Regions from separate parts of the Homo sapiens genome. Here region 2 is linked to region 1. The links come from fine-mapping of genetic effects on gene expression. A gene starts in region 1. The other region holds a variant in brackets. All regions are shown on one strand. Distances are from middle to middle.

Evidence for each region. PIP is the estimated chance that this variant, and not a neighbour inherited with it, causes the effect.
Region 2: its variant is the best candidate, but not a certain one, in a credible set for the expression of CCNYL1 in transverse colon (CEDAR, PIP 0.55).

Annotation. Positions count from the first base shown.
Region 1 is chr2:207,710,010-207,712,922 of GRCh38, reverse strand. It overlaps CCNYL1 (cyclin Y like 1), which reads right to left and starts at 1,283. Exons shown (of 10, transcript NM_001330218.2): 1 at 807-1,283. The coding sequence starts at 1,026. RefSeq lists silencers at 460-619, 632-741, 1,162-1,611 and enhancers at 483-1,479, 1,832-1,881, 1,892-2,091.
Region 2 is chr2:207,678,549-207,681,461 of GRCh38, reverse strand. It overlaps LINC01857 (long intergenic non-protein coding RNA 1857), which reads right to left. Exons shown (of 4, transcript NR_135566.1): 4 at 2,340-2,913. It also overlaps the pseudogene RNU6-664P and the pseudogene PPP1R14BP2. Among named protein-coding and RNA genes, the nearest start is that of LINC01857, 18 kb to the right of the region's middle. The variant T/C (reference allele first, on the strand shown) is at 1,604.

The DNA.
Region 1 (2,913 bases):
AATCGCTTGAAACCGAGAGGCGGAGGTTGCAGCGAGCCGAGATCGCGCCACTGCACTCCAGCCTGGGCGGGCGACAAAACGAGATTCCGTCTCAAAAAAACAACTTGTCTGCACCCCTGGTAATAACCTCTCACACCCTTCACAGTCATTTTACGCCCCTCCCCCCATTTTCTTTCTTTCTGTGTTCAAATTATAGTTGGAAGGAATAAAGCAGCTTCTTTCACGCCGACTTAACCTATTAGGAATACCATATAGTGTCTCCTATGGCAACCTCTATTTTGAGTCTAGATAAGAAATCCTCAAACATCTGGGTCTAAACTGTCGCGGGCATCAGCTATCTTCACGGATGGGAGGAAGGAACAATCAGACCCTTACCTGGTTCCTTCACTTAGGTACCATCTGGATGGGTTAAGGGAGGGAATGGGATGAGTACTCCGAAGTTGAGGTATTTGAGTTTCCATTGAGAAAAGGAAAACAATATACCCCAAAAGTCTTAGCAAAGTCCCACCAGACAATGAACAGAGCTACAAACAAGAAGGGCGGCGGACTAGAGGGTCCCACGCCGGCTTGGGAGAATGGGAAGCGGGAGCAAGAACTGGGCGTTACGGTAAGGAGGAGGAAAAGAAACTGGCCAGACGCAGCAGGGCAAGAATAAGGGGTGGGGACGCGAGGCAGAACCAGCCTTCGTCCCGGGGCCGGCTACCGGCAGGAAGGAGCCCGAGGCGGCGGATGCCTCCCGGGGGACTCTGGGGGAGGAGGCGGGCAGAGGTGAGCCCGAGGGCGGATGGCATCCGCCGCCTCCTTACCTTCGGGCATCTCGCGGTCGCTGATGTGCTGCAGGTGGTGGCCCTCGCCCTCTCCGAAATCCAACTCGGCAGGCTCCACCACAGCGGGCGCTACCGCCACCGCGTCCCCGGACACCGCCTCGTAGATGTCGGACGCGCAGTACAGCTCCGCCGACCCCGCGCGCCGGCCCAGCTTGGGGCTGGCATTGGGGGACACGCAACAGGTCAGCGTGTTCCCCATGGGAAGCCTCCGCTCCTCTCTGCCACCGCCTTCGCTCGCCCCCTACTCCGCCGCCCTCAACAGCCGCCCCCTCCCCCAACAATGGCGCGGCCGGCACCGGCAGCCCCGGGCTACGCTGGGGCTGCACCGCGCAAGCAGACGCCGCCTCGCCCGCGGTTCGCCCGCCCGCCCCGCGGCCCGGCCCCGGGCAGGGCTCGGGCCTCGGCCGCACCCCCACCGCCGCGCTGCCGCCGCCTCCCTTAAGCTGACTCGTCTGCGAGGGCGGTGACCAGCCCGGCTTATTTAAAAGGGGTGGGGAACCCAACAAGCGCTGTGAAGCACAGCCACTGCCGGGAGAGAGCGCGGCTGGAGCTCCTCCTCCTTCCGCCGCCGCCTACCGACTGAAGGCCGCTGGCCCTGGCCGGTGCCTGCCAACCGGAACGCGACCTGCGGTCACCTGGTTAGGAGGAACCAATCATGGTCAGAGTTCCCCCTCCGGCGCCCGCCTCGAAGCCAGGCACGTGACCTGCTGCCCCGCCCCCGCCTGGCAGCTGCCCAGCCCCTCACGCCGCTATCCCAGACTCGGGTTTTCATTCATCGCTGGCTGCTGGGAGCTTTCCGGTCCTACTGGAAGCGCACGGGCATTTGTAACTGGAAGCTGTGTCAATGATCTCTGTAGAAAGCCGTTATTAGTAAAGAGTTCGCTCCATTAGCAACTCTTCTTCCGAGTCTGACAGCTTTCGTTTGCTCACTAAACTTGGTTACACCCAAATTGTTAACTGTTTTTGTAACTCAGTGCTCCGCTCCTGTCTTCCAATGAGCGTTAGTTTTCACCTGCAACGTGATCATAGCAACCCTGGGGCCCTGGTCCTACTCTCCATAAAGAGTTGTGGCTGTGGGTCTTGAATGAGACTCGAGGACACGTCACCCTTCCACTTCCTCATCCATAAAATAGGGACCTAACTCGTCCCTGCCAACTCTGAAATGCTGGGACTCGCCAACTCCCTTTTCTTGCCTGTTTCTCTCCTCTAGGCAGGGACTTCCAGGTTTCTCTTCTTGTACTAAAAACAGCACAGAAAGCACGATTTTCTCACGCAAAACTGAGAACCATGCAGTGGGGCACCACAGTCTTGATTCCATGAAGATGAATAGTTACCATTTGGCAAGCACTATGTGCCAGACAGTGTTCCAACTGTGGTATATTTATTTAACCCTTAAAAACAATCCCGGCCGGGCGCGGTGGCTCATGCCTGTAATCCCAACACTTTGGGAGGCCGAGGCGGGCGGATCACCAGGTCAGGAGATCCAGACCATCCTGGCTAACACGGTGAAATCCCGTCTCTACTAAAAATACAAAAAATTAGCCGGGCATGGTGGCACGCGCCCGTATTCCCAGCTACTCGGGAGGCTGAGGCAGGAGAATCACTTGAACCCGGGAGGCAGAGGTTGCCGTAAGCCGAGATCGCGCCATTGCACTCCAGCCTGGGCGACCTAGGCTCCGTTTCAAAAAAATAAAACATAAAAATAAAAATAAATAAACAAATATATATATATACACACAATGTCACTTCCTCCCTAAGCTTGATTTCTACCTTTATTTTCTGATCATCATGATCAGGGACCCTCACCCTGAGCAGTCATGTAAGCTTGCGGAAGTAACTTAACTTCTGCGTCCCAATTTCTTCTATAAAACCTGCAAAATGGGATTGTTTTTTTTTTGTTTTTTTTTTTTTGAGACGGAGTTTTGCTCTTGTTGGGCGCGGTGGCTCACGTCTGTAATCCCAGCACTTAGAGAGGCAGAGGCGGGTGAATTGCTTGAGGTCAGGAGTTCAAGACCAGCCTGACCAACATGGAGAAACCCCGTCTCTACTAAAAACACAAAAATTAGCCAGGCATGGTGGCGTCCAC
Region 2 (2,913 bases), 31 kb after region 1:
GGGGCACCCGGGAGCAGCTGCAGCATGCGGAGACCCCGGGCCTGGCCTGGCCGCGCCCCGCCCCCTCCCCGCGGATCCGCCCGCCCTTTGTCCCCCGCGGCCGCCCTAAAGAATGTTAAGGTTCCCTAGGACCAGATAGGATAACTTAATCATAAGATAAATACAAGTGAGGAAAGGAATTAGATGAAATAGTATGAAGGAAATAGAATTTAAGAATTCAAGCCTGGGTGCGGTGGCTCACGCCTGTAATCCCAGCACTTTGGTAGGCTGAGGCGGGTGGATCATTTGAGGTCAGGAGTTCGAGACCAGGCTGACCAACATGGAGAAACACTGTCTCTAATAAAAATAAAAATAAATCAGGCGTGGTGGCGCATGCCTGTAGTCCCAGCTACTCGAGAGGCTGAGGCAGGAGAATCACTTGAGCCCAGGAGGTGGAGGTTGCAGTGTATGGAGTTCATACCACTGCACTCCAGCCTGGGCAACAGAGCAAGACTCAGTCTCAAAAAACAGAATTCAGGGAAATTGGATTATCTATGTCTTTAATTTCTCACAAGTCAACTATGTTCACACAACCTGTATTTTTCATACAGTAGAGGCCTGAAATGCAAACCAATGACTTCATTTGTTGCCGATCCACAGCAACAGTGATGGACTCCAACGCTGGAGGAAAAACTGGCTGCACTGCGTTTATTAAGATACAGTAAAGAATATATTAATCCTGACTATTACTATACCCTGGACAATTCAAGGGATTTTTCCAGAGTAATATTCATAGATCAGATGCAATTTTCATTTGACCTACACTGTAGAATATAACTTTTGGTGCTAGTTTCAGCAGCACATATACTAAAATTGGAATGATGCAGAGAAGATTAGCATGTCCCCTGCATAAGGATGACATGCAAATTCATGAAGTGTTCCATATTTTAAAAATACCTATCAGGTACTACACTTAGTACCTGGGTAATGAAATATTCGTACACCAAATTCTCGTGACATGAGTTTACCTATATAACAAAACCGCATAATGAGCCCCTGAACCTAAAACAAAAGTTAAAAAAGAGAAAAAAAAAGAATATAATCTTTGGTTAAAAAGTGACTCCTACCTTGATTTTAAGAAAATTTTTATCATTTAGTTTAATTCCATTCAGGGATCATAAATAAATAGTCTAATTTTTTTAAAAAAATCGAGATAGAATTTACATAGCAGCATTCACTCTTTTAAAGTATAAATTTTTGTTGTTGTTGTTTGTTGTTTGTTTGTTTGAGGCAGAATCTTGCTCTGTCACCCAGGCTGGAGTGCAGTGGCATGATCTTGGCTCACTGCAACCTCCACCTCCCCAGTTCAAGTGATTCTCCTGCCTCAGCCTCCCGAGTAGCTGGGATTACAGGTGCCTGCAACCATGCCCGGCTAATTTTTGTATTTTTAGTAGAGACAGTGTTTCACCATGTTGGCGAGGCTGGTCTTGAACTCCTGACCTCAAGTGATCTGCCCGCCTCGGCCTCCCAAAGTGCTGGGATTACAGGCGTGAGCCACCACGCTTGGCCTGGAACCTCCCTTTCCAGTTTGAATTCCCTCATGTCTCCTACTCACACCTCTGTA[T/C]TTCCAGCATTACCTCCTCCTTCTCCTCCAGTCTAAATCCCACCCATTTTACAAGTCCCACTTCAAATCACGAGTTTTTGATAAAGCCTTCCCAGGCTATCCAGCCCTCAGAGACAGCTTCCCAAATCTCATTGCATGTAGTAGTTGCACCTTTTGTTTGGCAAATATTCTGCCTTTCTGGCATATATATATGGCACATTGTAGGTGCTGCATGTATATTAAGTGAATGAATGAATCTCTACACCAGATTATAAGCAAATTGAAAGTCGTGGCCTATGCTATGTTCTAATCCAGGGCTGTAGCGTGGTTGAGGAGAGATATATGGCAATGATGAAAATATTTGAGAAGCTTAGGAGCCCCAGGGAGGGAGGAGCATTTCCCAGAGTCCTCTCTGTTTCCTTAGTTTAGAGCAACACCGATTTACCTTCTGGCTATGATCAAAATGTTTTTGTCCCCCAGAATTCATATATTAAAAACCTAATCCTCAAGGCGATGGATGGTATTAGCAGGTGGGCCCATTGGGAAGTGATTAGGTCATGAGAGGGGAGCCCTCATGAATGGAATTAGTGCCCTCATGAAAGAGGCCCCAGAGGGCTGCCTCTCCCCTTCTACCACGTGAGAACACGGAGAGAAGGTATTGCTCACTAACCAGAACACAGGCTCTCCATAGACACCACATCTGCTGGCGTCTTGATCAAAGACTTCCCAGCCTCCAGAACCATGAAGAAACACATCGTTGTTGTTTGTTTGTTTGTTTATTTATTTTTTGAGACAGAGTTTCACTCTTGTTGGCCAGGCTAGAGTGCAATGGCACTATCTGGGCTCACCGCAACCTCCACCTTCTGGGTTCAAGCGATTCTCCTGCCTCAGCCTCCCCAGTAGCTGGGATTACAGGCATGCGCCTCCATGCCTGGCTAATTTCTGTATTTTTAGTAAAGACAGGTTTCACCATGTTGGCCAGGCTGGTCTCGAACTCCTGACCTCAAGGCCTGGTGCAGCGGCTCACACCTGTAACCCCAGCACTTTGGGAGGCCAGGCAGGCAGATCACCCAGTCAATGTTATAGCAGCCCAAACAGACTGAGACACTCCTGCAAAAGCATGCCAAGAGCAAAGGGCCTTTTCTTCTTTTAGGGTCAGGATCAGGGATGGCCTTTAGTAACCATTTTGCCTTGGACCTTTCCTGTCCAACTTCTCATGCTCTCTTGATTTGACACCCAGATGTATGGCCAGCAGACTCCTACAGGGCCACTAACAGCTCCTCTGCAAAGTGCTCTGATAGCACAAAGGTGTCAGTTCTTCCTCTCAGCCA